Regions from separate parts of the Homo sapiens genome. Here region 1 is linked to region 2. The links come from fine-mapping of genetic effects on gene expression. A gene starts in region 2. The other region holds a variant in brackets. All regions are shown on one strand. Distances are between the middles of the regions.

Region 1 (8,000 bases), 260 kb after region 2:
AACCTCGAAAAAAGATTAGACAAATGGCTAACCAGAATAAAAAGCATAGACAAGGTCTTAAATGACCTGATGGAGCTGAAAACCATGGCACGAGAACTACGTGACTCATGCACAAGCTTCAGTAGCCGATTTGATCAAGTGGAAGAAAGGGTATCAGTGATTGAAGATCAAATGAATGAAATGAAGTGAGAAGAGAAGTTTAGAGAAAAAAGAGTAAAAAGAAATGAACAAAGCCTCCAAGAAATATGGGACTATGTGAAAAGACCAAATCTATGTCTGACTGGTGTACCTGAAAGTGACGAGGAGAATGGAACCAAGTTGGAAAACACTGTTCAGGATATTATCCAGGAGAACTTCCCCAACATAGCGAGTCAGGCCAACATTCAAATTCTGGAAATACAAAGAATGCCACAAAGATACTCCTTGAGAAGAGCAACTCCAAGACACATAATTGTCAGATTCACCAAAGTTGAAATGAAGGAAAAACTGTAAAGGGCAGCCAGAGAGAAAGGTCAGTTTGCCCACAAAGAGAAGCCCATCAGACTAATAGCAGATCCCTGAGCATCAAGCATTTTAAAATACTTTTCTGGCATGTGGTCCCATCAACCTTAAATATGTTTACTGTGTATTTAAACAAAGGTATTCTCCTGTGTAACCTCCCTACAGTCATCAAAATGGGAAAATTATTACTGATGCACTGGTGTCACTGAATCAAGAGACCTCGTTCAGGATTTCCCATTGTCTCAGTAATGCCCATAGAGCTAGAGATTCAGGCCAGCGCTGCACGTTGCATTTTGAACCACCATGCCCTTGACTCTCCTTCAGTATGGACCAGTTCTGCAGTCTTCTTTTGACTTTTCTGACCTTGACATCTTTGAAGATACAGGCCAGTTATTTTGTACAATAAAAATAACTTTGATTTCTTCACAACTAAGAAGTCTTCCTACTCTTGAGTTTTTATTCTAAAGTAATAAAATTTACTAGAAATTTAAAAGGACTAAAACTACTGGAAATGAATCATTATGGCAATAATTATAAATCACCGTTTCTCTAAAATTAATTAATTTTTGTTTTTCTGAGAAATTTGTAAACTTATATGCATTTCAGCTGCAACTGCCTCTCACATTCAAGTTTAAAACCTTGGCTATCTTATGGTATTGAAATTAAATACTGCTGAGAGAAATTGTATTTGTTGTAAATTACCACAGTTTCAGCTTACTGCACAGATATCTATTAAAGAACATATTTTGTGAGTTGCTCTTCTTAAAGACAGCAGAATAATTAAAGCCTGTGGACCAAGTAATGAAGGATAAAGTATAAGCCTCCATTTTGTCATTATGCATGCTGAAAATGTGCTGAGAAGGGTGTAATTTTACAAATGTTTTTACATACCAATGAGATTCAGAATTAGGGATTCATTCACTTCTGTATCTTGGACAGAAGTCACTCTCATTATGGGATGAGGAATACTGGCGCCTTTTCACTGAGGTTTTCCCCTTGCTGCTGCCCTGTTTTCCAGGTGTCCCAGCTGTATTTCAGCTCCTCAGGGAAGCTGTGTTCCTCGCTGCCTCCTCACCTCTTCTCCTGTGTGGAGAGAGCCTTTCACCAGCTCTTCCGGGAACAGCGGCCTCAGTGTTTCATCCTCAGGTGAGTCCTCCTCAACCTTGTCTGCCAGGCTCAGGTTTGCCACGGGGCTTGGCAGTAAAGATGTACTCATTTCCTATGGTTTACCTTTATTTACTTTCTCAGCACCTTGAGGTCCAGTATATCTTTGCAATAAGTACATTTGACTCGTTACAAAGGAGAAACATCTTGGCTGTTAGGAGTAGCCCCAAGTGTAGCTGGATCAATATTAATAAACTTAACCTGAAACTCATTTCCTTTTGAAGATTTAAAGCTTAGATAAAAAGTTTTTGCTTTTGAACCTAAGAAAACATGGAGAAAGAAAAACTACCAATATTACGGAACCTAAGCCACTGTTCTTCAAAATCCAGGGCTGCCCCAAATATCATTTTATTTCTTTCCAAAGGTATGTTTTCTCAGCCTGTTTCTTGTTATTTACCTTTGCTCACAATTCACTGTACTCTACTTCCTAAACTTTTTTTTTTTTTTTGAGACAGGGTCTTGCTCTGTCACCCAGGCTGGAATTTAGTGGCATGATCACCAGTCACTGCAGCCAAGGCTCAAGTGATCCTCCCACCTCAGCCTCCCAAGTAGCTGGGACTACAGGCACATGCCACCACACTTGGCTAATTTTTTAATTTTTGTAGAGATGAGATCTCACTATATTGCCCAGGCTGGTCTCAAACTCCTGGGCTCAAGCGATCCTCTTGTCACAGCCTCTCAAAGTGCTGGGATTACAGACATGGGCCACTGCATTTGGCCCAGAATATTTTTTGAATTTGAAATGTAATGCTAGATTTAACTCACCAATTAATAGAAAATTAAAGAAACATTTAAATGTTAAAATCTGCATCAGAGACCTATATTTTATATTCAGCCAAACCTCTACAAGGGAGGGAAAGCTCTATAAATACTCACTCACGGTAGCGCCTTAGTTGTTGTCAGTAGTGCTGGTTGGAACTCAACGGATAAGTACAGTAGCACACAACTCGAGTCAAAGTGAAATGAAAATGGTATAAAGTTAGAACCTGGATAGAATTCAAAAGGCTTATTTAAATATTAAAATGAGAGCTTATATGTTTATATGCATTTCATCAAAAATTCTATGGAGGGTGGAGGGACAGACTGATGGGCGCACACTTTAGTTTTCTAGTTTTCAAAGCAGCATGCTAGCGGTTGTTTTCGTGCTGGGTTCAGATGCATCCCAAGGATGAGGAAGGTGCTGAGGCAGGGGCTTCGACACATTCTAAACTCTAGGATAAGAAAGGCACTGAGGCATGGGATTCCACCCATTCTAGACTCAAAAATGAGAAAGGCGCTGAGGCAGGGAATTCCACCCATTGTAGACTCAAGGATGAGAAAAGCACTGAGGCAGGGGCTTCTGCCCATTCTAGGCTCAAGGATGAGAAAGACGCCGAGACAGGGGCTCTCACCCATTCTAGACACAAGGATGAGAAGGGCGTCAAGGTGGGGGCTCCAACCCATTCTAGACACAAGGATGAGAAAGGCACCGAGGCAGGGGCTTCCACCCATTCTAAACTCAATGATGAGAAAGGCTCTGAGACACGGGCTCTCACCCATTCTAGACACAAGGATGAGAAAGGCACTGAGGCGGGGGCTCCAACCCATTCTAAACTCAAGGATGAGAAAGGCGCTGAGACAGGGGCTCTCACCCATTCTAGACATGAGGATGAGAAAGGCTCTGAGACAGGGGCTCTCATCCATTCTAGACACAAGGATGAGAAAGGCACTGAGACAGGGGCTCTCACCCATTCTAGACACGAGGGTGATAAAGATGCTGAGACAGGGGCTCTCATCCATTCTAAACTCAAAGGAAGAGAAAGACGCTGAGACGGGCTCTCACCAATTCTAGACACGAGGATGAGAAAGGCACTGAGGTGGGGGCTCCAACCCATTCTAGACTCAAGGATGAGAAAGGCACCAAGGCAGGGGCTTCCACCCATTCTTTCTTTTGATACGGAGTTTCGTTCTTGTTGCCCAGGCTGGAGTGCAATGGCACAATCTCAGCTCACCGCTACCTCTGCCTCCTGGGTTCAAGTGATTCTCCTGCTTCAGCCTCCTGAGTAGCTGGAATTACAGGCATGTGCCACCACGCCCGGCTAATTTTGTATTTTTAGTAGAGTCGGGGGTGTCACCACGTTGGTCAGGCTGGTCTCGAACTCCTGAGCTCAGGTGATCCACCTGCCTCGGCCTGCCAAAGTGCTGGGATTACAGGTGTGAGCTACTGTACCTGGCCACTCATTCTGGACTCAAGGATGAGAAAGGCGCAGAGATGGGGGCTTCCACCCGTTCTAGACTCAGGCAACCCTATTTTTATCTGCTTTGTCTGTCCAGTTTCCTGGTCTTCCTTTGATAAATAGGGAAAACTTTTTAAAAGTTGCTTAGAAAAAACACTGTCAATTGGTGAGACAGGGAGAGTTTAACACTGTTGACAATAACAACTAATGTTTATTGAGAATTTACTGGCTGCCAGACCCTTGACTAGATTATTTCTATGTATTATTTATTTCTTTAGAATTTACATAACTTTTGAGTGCTCCCACTTAATTCTAGGATGATCATTGCAGCTGTTATAGGTCAGTTTTTGAAAGCGTGGGTCCTGAGCAAGGCTCTAAGGGGAGAAAAGGAGGAGCAGCAGGCCCATGCGCTTTGGGAGTCCGCCCGGGAGATGGCACACAGCGGCCAGCAAGTTTTCTTATGAAGAACCCCGTTTATCTTAGTTTAACCCAACAGTTTTGACAGGTATTTGCTCATGGAACTTTTTATCCAGTATATATTCTGCAGAACTAGTTTTGCTTTGGGTCTTTTTTTTTTTGATATGGAGTCTTGAGTCTCGCTCTGTCGCCCAGGCTGGAGTGCAGTGGCGCGATCTGGGCTCACTGCAAGCTCCGCCTCCCGGGTTGACGTCATTCTCCTGCCTCAGCCTCCC[G/A]AATAGCTGGGACTACAGGCGCCCGCCATCACGCCCGGCTAATTTTTTGTATTTTTAGTAGAGACGAGGTTTCACCGTGTTAGCCAGGATGGTCTCGATCTCCTGACCTTGTGATCCGCCCACCACAGCCTCTCAAAGTGCTGGGATTACAGGCGTGAGCCACCGCGCCCGGCCCTCCTTTGGGTCATTTTTTAAAGTTAATGATTCCCTGTACCAACCCCTTATTTTGAAAAAATACCTCTTCATTCAAGTTTCAAGAAGGTGTTGATGCAGGATTTTGCTCCTTAGCTCGGCTACGTCCAGGTTCTTGCCTCACGACCTGGAAAAATGAGGCGTGCGGACACGAGAGAGTAAGTGGAGTAGAATTTATTATGCGAAAGGGAAGCTCTCAGCAGAGAGGGGTCCTGAAGCAGGGTGCCTGGTGCCCCCTTCTCAGTTGAATACCACCAGAGCTTAGGGCGCAAACTGCTGGCGGCTCCACCCCCCGTCCTTCCAGTGCGCATGCTGAGGCCGAGCTGCTCCATATTGATTGATTTCCCTTGCTGCACGTGTGCTAAGGAACGGACTCTTCCACCGCAGGCTTGTTTAGGCAAAGCCCCCTGTGCAAGTTCCCTTATCGGCACAAAACATCTGACGTAAGCACTCGTGGGGCGGGTCGGAGCTTCTCGGGGGACCCTTCCCTGACTGTCTGCCTGAAGCAAGCTGGAGAACTCCTTTCGGTATCGCTAGTCCTGATATACAGAATGGAAGAGCAAATCTCTGGTTACTAGGACTTACTGTTTTAGTGATTCTCTTTCTTCTTTCAAAATTGTGTGTGCTTTCATACAGCTTTGCCACATCCTTGATTGTGTGGGCTAAGATACATGCTTTCTCCATTTTTACGAATATGATAAAATTAGCCATTTGAAATTCAACTTAATAAGTTGTTAACGGATCATTATTGAGTGTCAGTTGTGTCCCAGAACGAGCACTTACAAAGGGTAATTTAAGATTTAGCAATCAAAACGCAAGTAGTCCTGGAATGGATGTCCCAAAACTCAGTACCAGACCAGAAAAAATTTCATTTTGTTTTCTAATATTAACTTAATACCTCATTTGTTGATACTCTTAGGCCCCAGTAGTTCAAAAGTCTGCACAAGTGAGTGGAAGCATCCATTAACGACTCGACACTTTAAACAAATAATTAAATTTCAACTTACTTCTTTTCTGGCAAACACTGTTAATTAACTTTGTTAAAATAGATGTTTCCAGGCAGAAAACCAAGGAAGCTCTCCTAAAAGGGCTTTAAAAAGTTTTTCTGGTTACCAAATAAGTAAAGGCTGTTTTTATGAATTTTTCATCTGGATGAAGTAATAACTTTATTGTAGATCACATCACTTTGAAATAATAATTATTTTGTGGGAATTTTATGTCAATCCTATATCATATAGTGTCAGGAATATAATATTTACCATTTTTAAAAATTGGGTGAGTTAATGAAGTATGCCTGGGATGTATTAAAAGTGATGCCCTTATAAATAAAAGTTCAGTGATCTTTCCTAGATTAAAGAAAAATGCAAACTAGAGAACATCAGAACTGAAAGCAAGCGGAAAAGGAAACCTAAGCAGGTCAGGTTTAGTAGGATCTGCGGAATGACAGATCCACATCTGAAGACCTTACTGCCTTAGTTTTTGTAGCTAGGCACTTTATGTTCATTTCAAAGAACAGAGAAGGAATGCTCAGAAAGATGTCACAGCTTTTCCACAGAAGAGGTAACGTCTCTCCTGTAAGGCCCATGAAGCATGAACAGTTTTCCCAAGGCCATGTGTGAGCCTGCATGTCTCAACACAGCATGCTGTCTCGGGATCGCCTCACTTTATGTTGACTTGCTAAGCTGAGTCAAGTTGGTTATGTCTTCTTCTCAGCCTGACACCTTTCTGGCATAATTCACCTACACTAGGTGGTTCTACCCTGTGAGATACTGAATGGCAGAACTTGTGTCATATTCATTTGTAATGCCAGCATCTGAAACACCATCAGGGACATGACACAGTCAACATATACTGGGTATTTCAGACAAATGAATCAAATTGAAGTGTGAACGGAGACCACAAACTCATTGCAAGTAGATGTGCCATTCCCTCCTCATTTCTGTGTCTGAGAAATATCTCCAGTTAATTTTTTTACTTGTTCCTTCAAAGTAGTTTCAAAGGAACAAAGGAACAAGCTTTGAAGCAAAGTTCCTTCAAACTTATGTTTTTCCTCTCTGTTTTCCTTAGTGGAGAAAGGGGATCAGGAAAGTCTGAAGCCAGCAAACAAATCATAAGACACCTCACCTGCAGGGCTGGCGCCAGCAGGGCCACACTGGATTCCAGATTCAAACATGTAAGTTTTTTGTTTGGGTTGGCAAATATGTGAATGAAGATGTTCAGCCAGTTGTCATTTACAAATAGGGGAGGGGACATCATAATAGATACAAGGGGGTTCAAAATTTGTGGAAATAAAGAATAAAAAATTATTGAGCTTGGGTTCAAATAAATACTGTTCGAGTGAACATTTATTTATTTTACATATTTAAAATATTTTGTACATACTTTCTTTTTGTATTTGCTCCGAATAGTTGGATCTAAAACACGTAATATAGGTAGATGTTGTTGTTCACAAAGAAAGTGCACTTTGAGGCTGAGCGCAGGGGCTCACGACTATAATCCCAGCACTCTGGGAGGCCGAGGCATGTGAATCACCTGAGGTCAGGAGTTCGAGATCGGCCTGGCCAACATTGTGAAACCTCGTCTCTACTAAAAATACAAAAATTAGCCAGGAGTGGTGGCTGGTGCCTGTAATCCCAGCTACTCAGGAGGCTGAGGCAGGAGAATTGCTTGAAGCCGGGAGGCAGAGGTTGCGGTGAGCTGAGATCATGCTGTTGCATTCCAGCTGGACAAGAGCAAAACTCTGTCTCAAAAAAAAAAAGAAAAGAAAAAGAAAGTGCACTTTGGTGTGTTAGGACATTTTGGGGAGCTGGCCAGAAAAGAAATTATTGTGAGGGATCACTGGGGCCTGATAATAAATCTTTGGTGTATCTGAAAGAATTGGCAATAGTTATCCTTAAAGACTTCGATGGGCAGGCCATGCACCTTTGGGGCCAAAACAGATTTTAAACTATTTGGAAACATTTGCAGTGTTAACTGTCCCGCTAATTCATCATTCTAAAATATGACCGTGATTCAAGGAGGAAGCAAAAAGACCTGTTAGCAGCTAAGATAAAGCTAAAAACATCCCACATAATCAAACTCAGAAATTTTACTCAAGGAGGCCACCACAGGTGCTTATCCATAGACTGATTCTGTTGTTTATACATAGTTCTAGCAAGTTTTGTTAAAAGGTTTGTTCAGACCATAGCAGATCAGAAGAAGACATTGAAAGGCCACTGGAAGGAATGGCTAACAG
Region 2 (11,148 bases):
TTGGTGGGGGATGGAAAAGAGAGGGATGGTGGGGGATGGACGAGAGGAAGAGGAGGTAAGAGGAGAGGCCAAAATAGGCTAAGAGAGATTCTGATGGGAAACATGAAGTCGTGGATCATGAATCAGAGACATGGATCAGAGCACGGACCACACTCACAGAGCATCCTGGCACTGGTTTCCAAAGCCCCACTATTCAAAAAGCAATGGACGGAAAGCCTGATATCATCCTGCAAGGGCAGTGGAATTGTAACACAGGAGAGGAACCAAAGAGTTCAAGGACTCTAAGCTTTTATAAGCTGCACATATGCCCATTTGAGAGAAAGAGTGAGAGAGAGAAAAGGAAACAAATTTTCTCTTGGAGAAGAAAAGAGAAAGTCTCCAGGCTTATCACCCTGAAATATAAGCCCATGGGCCTGGGAGGTAATTCTCCAAATTGCTTCAGAGCTACACACACGACGTCCAGCTTCCAAGGTATGCTTTTATGTAATCACCATTTAACCAAGGCTGCCAATGCTCTTTCCTCTGACAGCCCAAACTGTGCAGATAGGAGAAAATATTTATGGAGAACAATATCGTAACAATGAGGGCTACTTAAACTTATCCAAAAGGCCTGAGACTTCAGTTTGGAGAAATAATTTAATGTCATTTGTGAATTTGGATATTTCAGTGTACATTCTTTTTCTAGAACACCTTAAAATATTGTTAAATTTTGGGAACCTCTCTAGTGACTATATTGTATCCATTGTCACTCAAAGAAAATTAGCAACAAGGGAATTCATTTAGAAGAAGAAAGTCAAACTTGCAGCCAGATCTCCCTATGATCCGTTTTAATGGCGCCTTCATGGGGGATATTGAAAAACAATATACACTCAGTCTACTTGTACCTACATGCTTGAATGAAGAAGGGGCTATACTCCACTTCATTTCTTTCTTCTTCTCCTGTCATGTATGGTAAGTTATGTTTACTTAAGTGTTCAATAATCCTGCCTTTAATAAAATATTCCTCAAGACATTATATGTCATGCACCAGAAAATGCTTTAGAGCAATTCTAATTCTCTGGCTCTCCCTTTGTTGATCTCTGAATGTTCACTAATGTTTTGGACTTCATAGGAAATAGGAAAAGTAGAAGGTCTGAGACTCAAATAACGAGTTACCTACCTAGGAAGAGCCTTCCCTATGATAACTAGTTAAGAAAAATGCAAAGCATTGCATTATAAATGCTGGATTGACTGGTACATGAAAAAAATGAATATAAGCTTTAGAGAAGGTCAGGAATAATTTAAGCAATAAAAAAATCAAGAACAGTTTGTAGATTAAATGGGCTTGAAGTAAATTTGAAGAATGCATGGAATTTGAATAGGTAACTTAGTGTGATTAAATTGTAAATAAGAGCATGATTCAACTAAAGAGGCATATTTTGTTTAAAAAATCCATGTATATCAATGGGAAAAGTATGAAGGAGAGGCTTCTTATTTAATTGCCTCACAATTCCTTTCATCCTTTTTGGGAAAATTAAGAATATCTTTTAGATCATCAAAAAACTTTCAGATATTGTCTTCTAAATGACAAATGTATAGAGATCTGTTCAAACATTTCAGCCTGGTGTCCCAGCTGTCTTATTTAGGCCAACAGTAATCGCTAAACTTGCTTCGTCATCAATAAATTTTTTTTTATCTGCCTATTCCTGGTAACTGGTTGCAGTATACTATTTATTCCCTCAAACTGATTGAAGAACAAGGCAAAGAATACTTAATTATTCATGTGCTCATATTCATCCATATCACACATGTGCACATAAACCTAGGTAGAGTCATACAGACATAAAACAAAACGGTCTGTTTCTTATTCACCATTAAGATATGCAAACTTTTGTCCAAGGTCAAACACCTGAAATGGAAAAGTCTTCCTAGATAGTTGTAACGCATATGCTGGAAAGATTTCAAAGTGGTTGTTCGGATTCAAGTGAAAAACCTTACAAATGCTTTACAAATGTCCTGCTTTAGATACCCAGTTTAACTGGTCCTCACTAGAATTTAAAACATTTCATTTTGATTAGGGAAAAAAATCACCAAAGGAAGTGGGTGGCCAAATGCCCTTAAGGAGCAATTAGAACATCCCATATAGCCTGAGTGTGTGTGTGTGTGTGTGTGTGTGTGTGTGTGTGTGTGTGTATCTTCATATATCCATATCAATGCACATGCATGTATTTGCTATTATATTAATCTATATTGTATTACAGAGAGTAATTTTCAGTCTTTTTGAAGCAGTTTTTAAAATTGCATTTCTTTTCTACATCAGTACTCTATGAAAGTATTTGAATAACCAGGGATATTTTCTAGCCGTTATATGACAAATTCACTTTTAGTCACTAAAGCAGGGCTCAGCTGGGTTAGCCCTCACTGCCCTCTGACATGGAGAGGGCAGTTCCTATTAACCCCTACTTCTTTCCAACTGTGCAAGTCTGTATTGTAAATTTCTTCTCATTTACTTCACAATTGCCCACATCTAACTTGAATGTCCGTTTGTTCTGGTTGGAGAAATGTGAGACTACGTGAAGCTGAAGTGAACACACAGCCCTGTGGAGTCCTGAATCCGAGAGCTAGTGGTTTCACAGGCAGGCCAAAATCAGGAACAACCTCCACAGTCACTAGACTGAGATCAGGGACTTTATGAGAGAGTCAAGGATGTTCAGTCATTCAAGGTAGGCTTGATCCTGGTCCTGAGGCACCAGGGGTTGACCAGAGGCTGATTCTATAGCAAGAGCTGAGTGTATTTATGCCTTATTTTTTGACAACTCAGATATTTTCTCCTCTGTAGGCTTCAGCCTCAAAGGACCCTAAGTTATTAGACCGGAGTTATGTTCCCAGGAGAGGTCTTGACTCCATTCACCCAGAAGCAGTCAATATTTGTGATAGAGGAAATTATAAATTTAGCTGTCAGCCATTGTGTGTGAGACACCTGTGGCTCAAGGTCTCTAAATGTGTGTAATTTACTTCATCAAAGGCTAATATTTATAAGCCCCAACCTATTCACAGGGCAGAGGCAATGATGCCCCATCACAGAGCTTAAATTTGCATAACAAAAAACTGTTGTGTGTGATTTATATCTTCATTTAGAATTTTTGTCATGACCTACTGTTAATACGTACCTTTCCCAAATTGGTGATGTTTGCAAACTTTAGTTTTAATTTCTTCATTTAATAAAGCATGTCAATGCAGGCACTATTAGATTAGGAATTATCTGTCAGCAGACTGGCATTATGAAACTACATGTTTTACATTGTCCAAATAGGTTTTAAATGAAAACATTAAGTAGTATCTCACCTGGGGCCTTTTTGGAGCTGTGTCTCATGTATCCCATTTTAAAAGATATTTACTAAGCAATTTCTAACTTTTGAATGCTTATCTCTCATTAGAATCATTGCAGTTTCTTTTTTTGTTTTTGGCTGGGAAATAATTTAGCCTTATTTGAAAAAATCTGGTGTATAATAATGCTAACATTTAAGAGAAAAAAAATCATGTGTTCATATCAGAAATAGTGTGAATAATGAGCAGCTGTATGGTGTATAAAAGAGAAAAAGGGGTTTCTTGATTATTCAAAAATGAGTTTGAAATATTATGCATTCGTATTTGGAAAGAACAATAGTTCATTGTAATAATACTGAAAAATAATAAAATAATTGTGCTTTATGCGTTTGAAAATTTTCTGGAAATGCAAAACAATACCCTCTTTCGAACGCATGGATTTAATTTTGTACTTAATGACCATATTCTGCAAAATAGATAAATTGCTAACCATATATTTAATTTAGCCTTGGTCATTTCTTGCTACTGTCATCAACTCTGATACCATATTTAAAATATAAGATTTAGCCGGGCATGGTGGCTCATGCCTGTAATCCCAGCACTTTGGGAAGCCAAGGCAGGTGGCTCACCTGAGGTCAAGCCTGACCAGCCTGACTAACATGGTGAAATCTCATGTCTACTAAAACTACAAAAATTAGCTGGGCATGGTAGTGGGTGCCTGTAATTCCAGCTACTTGGGAGGCTGAAACAGGAGAATTGCTTGAAACCGGGAGGCAGAGGGTTGCAGTGAGCCAAGATCGCGCCATTGCACTGCAGCCTGGGTGACAGAGAGAAACTCCATCTCAAAAGAGAAAATAAAAGAAAAGAAAAATATATATGTGTGTGTATATATATATATGTATATTATACATGTATATATGTATATTTTATGTATATATGTATATTATATATATTATATATAGCTATATATAATATATATAAAAATATATATTGTATATAATATATATATTATATATTATATATATATATGATTGAAGGAGTCCTGAAATTATTGTTCTGACCACCCAACAGTGAGTTGAGTTTCTCAGGGATGGATATAGAGGAGGAAATTTTAATCAACTTCAAGTTACCATTTTTAAAAAATTTTATGAAGGAAGTAAAGTTAATGGAACCAAAATTATTTTCCTCAGTATTAATGCCTGCATTAGAAATTAATTTTTGTTTTGTAGTGATGAAATATGTAAATAGGTTTAAACATAGTTCTACCAATGTTTAGAGCATGAGTATGTGGTTTCAAAGACAAAAAGATAAAAGGGCTTCTTAATCTGGGGAAATTATATGTAGATACAGTTTATACATAGAAAGCACATTCTAAGTAGTTTAAGAAATCTGTGAATACATTTCTCAGTGTATCCTCCTTCAACTCCTCAAAGTGGATTAGATGTTGGCTCTTGTTGTTTTAGAGGTCTACATTTGTAGTCTTACAGTTTCTAGCACACAACACTGTGCTATCTTGATTGTCTCTATTTCATCTGACGATAAGCACTTTGAGGTCAGGGAGTCAAGTTTCTCTTATAGCACAAAGAGTTGCCAAATGTTTATGGAATACATGAGTCGATGAAAAATAAACACATTTGATAATGAGCCCCTGGAGATGAGATGTTAATTCTCACGGGGTACCTTGGTTAAAGTTCTTATAAGAAATGCCTTAAGTTATTGAAAAAAGTAGGGCTCAAATCAATTATATTTTTAATAACATATTTTCTTTGTCAAGTGCACAACATGCCCCTCTGAGTGTTATGCTTTTTTTCAGTTTAAAGAGTGAATGGTATCATTAAACTCAATTGTCTTAAGATGTTTGCTGAGTTTGTATACATGCAGAGGCATGCAATTTGCAGAAAATTAAGACATTCAGACATTTAAGGAAGGTATATAGGCAACATACTATTTATCCGGCATTGTATTAAGAGAAGGGGGTAGGGACATCTACATGGATACAACCTTACCCGAAGATACATTAGATAACATTCACATAAATTCACAGTTATTTTATGCACATGTAAAGATTTGTATTGATTTAAAGAGGAGAGAGCTTTACTTCCCGTGTTGGAAACAGATATAGTTGTGTCTTACAGTTTTATTGAAACATTACAAAACATCCAAGAAACCCTTTAAAAATACATTATAGATTCCTGGTATATAAAGGCTCTGTTTTAGACATATTTTATTCCTGAAAAGCACCCAAAATGGTGACTTTTGTGACAGTGACTCTCAATAATTAATTGTGGAATCAACGAATAAATGAGGAATCAGCATTCCTGATGAAGGCTGCAAATCCTCATTCTAATTTTTGGAAAAGCCAAGTTAAAGCGTCCATAATCATCATTTGGTACATACATAAGTTTTTTTCCTTGTTAATGTTAATGACAACTTTTCAATGAACACCAACAACAGAAACCAGAAATTTTATGTGCATTATTTCTAACCTTCAGAATAAAGATTAGGAATTATATTTCACATGCATAGATGAGGAAACTGAGGCTTTAGCAGGTTAAATAATGTGTTTACATTGATACTCTGGTAAGTGGTAGAAGCTGGATTTGACATCAGGCTGTTCTGTGCGAAATCTTCAACTTATTATTTTACATCACGCTACTAAAATGTGTTAGAATATTATTCAGTGAAAATGTAATAGTCATGACCCCTTGTTGTATAGATTTGAATTTCATAATCTTCTAGTTTAATAAAAGCACTGCTCTTTGAGTTTTGTTCAGTAAGGAATACAAAATTATGTTACTGCCACAGAAGGATGGGTGCACTTAACATATTGTTCATGTTTACCTTTCCTATAACCTCAAACCTGAAACATAAATTCTAGACTATGTCAACTTGTCTTTGGAGAAGATCATCATAAAAATGTATCAATTTGCAAAAAAAATGTATCACTTTGAATTTGTAAACAACTTAAAATATAACCTTTTGGTTTGCTACCATGGCTATTTCATTATGAGTATGATATTCACTTTTATAACAATAAACCCTAGCAGACCATATATTTCTTTCTGATTCCAATTCAGTCAGATTTACTTCATCCAGTTGGGTTGTACAGTTAAATTCATTGCAGTCTGCAGAGGTAGGAGAATCCTAAATTTTAAAGCTATGCAAACCAAAAGCTTTTTGTGGATAATTTAAGTTTTACATTCTGCTCAGAAAAGCAGAAAGATGTGTTTTGAAATATAATGCAAGTTTTTCATTACTAAGGACAGATCAAAGATCTCTGATTCTAAGAGGTGGCTATTTTAAGCTCCTGCTATCAATTTCCTATTCACACACAGCAACTGGTGGCAACTAAAAATAATCCGCTTTACTACCAGCTAAGAATCTGGTCATATGTGGCTGATGGACAGTGTGCACGAAGAAGATTTAGGATCCTTCTATCCGTGGCTTCTCTCCAGCCCACTCATCAGCTTAGTTTGCTGCCATTTGAAAGCTATTGAAAAGCCATTAACAGGCAGGACCGGGAGAGCCGCACTGCAGCACACCTCCGTGCAGCAGAATGTGGCTGCATGTGAACACCAATTAGAGCTGACTATTCCCGGGATTGTGGTACTCGGGGCTGTGTCAATCAAGGGTGCTACAATAGCACGTGCACCAGTGGTGCCTCAAGACCCACCGGGGAGAGGCTTATCTTAACTCCAGCTGCCGAATGAGAATGAGTTTGAAGCTTTTTGCAGGATCATGGAACAGAGCCTCCATGCAATAGTGCATCCTGAGGTAAACTGTTACCTGAGTAAGGGCTTTAAGTAATGCATTTCCTGGGAACGACAGTTGTGACAGAAGAGAATGCTGGAACCCGTAGCAAGATTCCTGTCTGAGATGGAAAGATGTCTCACTATCATTTTATCAAGTGCTGTAAGTAAGCTTGATATCTTGCTCATGTGGTTATTTGTCTTGTTGAAGTATTATTTTGTGCAGATGCCAAAATTAAGGCAGTTCTCCTGGTATACCACATTCAGATGAGTGACATAGACTGGTGACTTAGAAGAATATTTTACAGGCTGGATATATTTCCTTTTAATTTTAGATTGTGAAATAATTCCAGTGTGATCCAAATGCTAATAGCACAGAGATCTTTAAAACTTCAGCTTTTTAAAAAAAATGATTCATAGACACAGCAACCAGAAAAAAAAAAAAACACCAGAAACACATGGAAAGAAATTACAAAAGCATATTTTTGCTCATTGGCACATGTTAATAAAGTACATAAAAACTAAGTTTATTAATATATGGCTGAGGTCATTTAGCTAGTATTTTAGTCTCAAGTTTTACTGCTTAAGCCTCTATTCAATGCTTTTTGTAAGTGTGATCTTTAGGGTTATCCTTGACTGTAAACTTTTGTCCTTGTATCATTCACCTTGCGGTGCTTAGGGACTCCAGGGACTCTGTACCAAATGCTCTCCACTGATGTTCATATGGTGAAATTTAGTTTGTCACCAGGTTCTCTTTTGGGCTTATCAAGGGTTTCTTTAGCGTCTGAAATTTTGGCAGAATTTTCTGAGCTAGAGAATACTTCCATCTAAACCAATTCTGGATGGTAATAATGAAGAGGAAGACATATTTATCCAAAAATGGCTTGCTGGATATACATTTTTGTCCCCTGCAGCACTTCTGAAAACTTCTGTACATATATATCATGATCTTAAAGTGACAGATGACATTTGCAGAAAATGGTTTTCTTTTAAGCTTAAGGTTTTGCTGCCAAAGGACATCACAATGTTAAATTGAAGCAGCATATTAAGGGAACACATGTGTTGAATGAATCTTGAGCTTTGCACTAAAGGAGACTAAAAAAATAATGATGATTGAGAAGGTGAAAATATTTACCTTTCTCTTATTTTTGGTAGAGAATGTATACAGGAATTAAAACTATGATTAATGGAAATAAAAATGCCTTACTCTTAAGCATTGCCAAGAATGTCATGCTTTCATGTTGCAGAACAATTTCAATTCCCAAAAGGATTCACTGGTCATCTCGTAAGTTTGCAGATTAGCTCTTTAACTAATAAGAATTAGAGGCATGCAGCGTATTTAAGAATTTTGAGAATAGTCTTCTGCTTTAATCTGTTAACTCTTGGGGTTATTTTCTTGGAGAAATAGACACAGGGCAATACTCTGACTGGTTTTTGTATTGCCTCTCGTGTTTTACTGCACTAGCAGAATGTCATTATTTTCCTTGCTGTGCCTCTGCAGAGGAAAAACTCTGCATCTTTCCTACAAGGAACCTGGATGCTCATTAGACACATTGAACACACCTGGTGGAGGGCAGCCATGGAGCATGGGTGGAAGCACAAAGGGACAGTGACATGGACGTGAGAGATTCAGGGAGCAGTTGGTCACCAAACACAATATGAGTCTGCCCTTTCCTGCCTTTTGTTCTGTTTTAGTTGAATTATTTGATTGTAGAATTTCGGAAAATTGTAGACATTTCAGAAAATTGGTGATGTCAATTGGAGCCTGTGAGATATTTCTTTTAGCATGCTAGTATAAGAGATGAAATCTAAAATTAATGAATTTAAACATTCCTGATGCATTTCTGAAAGTAATTAGCAACTACTTACTAAAGATCTGACTGCTTTCTAAGCTTTGAGTGTGACAGTCTATAAAATGGAAAGGAAGCATGAATATTATGAAATGCTAACTTTACTGGAGAAATGGTGCGATGTGTTAAGGAGTTCAGAAATTATACTGCATTCTGTGCTGAACTAGTGAAGGGTGTTTTATGAAAAAAATGCATCTTGAGCTATATCTTGGAAGGATGAACAAAATATAGAAGAAGGCCGGGCGTGATGGCTCACGCTTGTAATCCCAGAACATTGGGAGGCCAAAGCAGGCGGATCACCTGAGGTCAGGAGTTTAAGACCAGTCTGGCCAACATAGTGAAACCCTGTCTCTACTAAAAATACAAAATTTTGCTGGGTGTGGTGGTGGGAGCCTGTAATCCCAGCTACTTGGGAGGTTGAGGCAGGAGAATTGCTTGAACCCGGGAGGCGGAGCTTGCGGTGAGCTGAGATCGCGCCATTGCACTCCAGCCTGGGTGACAAGAGCAAAACCCCAACTCAAAAAAAAAAAAAAAAAAAAAGAGTGAATGCCCTCATGGTATCCTAAGGGTTTATTGATAAGGATCATAATTCATGGTTTAATGGTTGTTCCTGATGCGTAAGATTTTCCCAAATTGTTGTCTCCCATATTGGGCTGATCTGCTGGCGAGGTTCATCGGCCTTCGTCACACTCCATTCCTTCTTCGCCTGTCCTGCATTTCTACCACATATCTGTCTTTCATTCTGAGCCAGATTTATCACCATAGCACGTTCACTTTCAAGCCAGACAGCAATGCAGGAAGTGGATGAATTCCAGGGCAGGAGCAGGACCTTCTGAAATGTGCAACATTAGCATCCCATGTGCTCCTAGTGAATCACAGGAAGCCTTCAGGTGGGATGCTGGGTGACCAATAGCTAATGCTCGCAAGGAACTGTTAGTCACCTGGGAAAATACTCATCATCTAAGGTGAAAAAATTATACGCTTCAAGGTCGAAACTTAATCTAACAGTTGTTATCTCCAGTTTATGATAATATCTGTTACTTTGTAAAACATTTTTACTTTATTTTAGAGAAGGGTTAAAAACTAGAGTGTAAAAATTTACTGTGGAAGCAGGATATAGCAGGAAAGTGTAGGAACACCACAGCAAAAAGTGTGGCCATTTCATGTATCTTGGTAGCTGAGAAGTAGCTTTAGACAGATCTGCAGTGAGAGCCAGTCTCAGAGCCCCATGCCTGTTGAGAGGTAACACATGAACATGACCAGGCCCCAGCTGAGGCGCAAGCAGAAATGAGAAATGGAACTCAAGGGAGTCATGGGCTCACAGAACTTTAAGGCCATGTGAGACTTGAAACTACTTTTGTTTTAATGAACTGAAGCGGAGGCTTGAGGTCTACCTGTGGAGTTCCCTTCACGTGCCTCTGGGGGTGAAGCATTGCAATAACTACACCTGACCTATTTCTCTCCTGGTTCAGCTCTTCTCTAAGCATACGGGTTTGGGGCAGCATTGTTTGCAGCAGGAGGAAGGTTAAAGTTATTTAAAATGAATATTCTCCAGAGCTGAGAATTCATTTACAACACCTAAGAACGAATTGTATCAGAAAATCTGTTACTTTATATGTTGTATTAGTCAGGGCTTTCTTGAGGGGCAGAACTAATAAGATAGATGTATATATAAAGGGGAGTTTATTAAGGAGAATTAACTCACACAATCACAAGGTGAGGTCCCACAATAGGCCATCTGCAAGCTAAGGAGCAAGGAAGCCAGTCAGAGTCCCAAAATATCAAAAGTAGGAAAGCTGACAGTGCAGCCTTTAGTCTGTGGTCAAAGGTCCAAGAGTCCAAAAGCGGAAGAACTTGGAGTCTGATGTTCAAGGGCAGGAAGCATCCAGCATGAGAGAAAGATGTAGGCTGGAAGACTCAGCCAGCCTGGTTCTTCCATGTTCCTCTGCCTGCTTTTATCCTAGCTGCACTGGCAGCTGATCAGATGGTGTCCATCCAGATCGAGGGTGGGTCTGCCTCTCCCAGTCCACTGACTTGAATGTTAATCTCCTTTGACATCACCCTTGCAGACACACCCAGGAACAATACTTTGCATCCTTCAATCCAACCAAGTTGACACTGAGTATTAATGATCACACATATTAAACATGTTTTATGATACCAAGGTTAAAACCCATTTTTTTCCTCAAGCCACTCATGCTGATGAACACCACCTCCAGTAAAATGCTTTCCTCACTTTTCTA

Which allele goes with the higher level. Positions count from the first base shown, and alleles are read on the strand shown. Sizes are in standard deviations (SD) of each study's normalised expression.
For the expression in testis of the gene that starts at base 6,957 in region 2, allele A in region 1 goes with a lower level than allele G (moderate effect, 0.63 SD a copy in GTEx).

Evidence for each region. PIP is the estimated chance that this variant, and not a neighbour inherited with it, causes the effect.
Region 1: its variant is fine-mapped to the expression of MYO16 in testis (GTEx, PIP above 0.99).

What each region holds. Positions count from the first base shown.
Region 1 is chr13:108,881,540-108,889,539 of GRCh38, forward strand. MYO16 (myosin XVI) reads left to right here. Exons shown (of 35, transcript NM_001198950.3): 13 at 1,520-1,647; 14 at 6,833-6,938. Among named protein-coding and RNA genes, the nearest start is that of MYO16-AS2, 220 kb to the right of the region's middle. The variant G/A (reference allele first, on the strand shown) is at 4,574.
Region 2 is chr13:108,622,655-108,633,802 of GRCh38, forward strand. MYO16 (myosin XVI) reads left to right here and starts at 6,957. Exons shown (of 35, transcript NM_001198950.3): 1 at 6,957-7,218. The coding sequence starts at 7,191.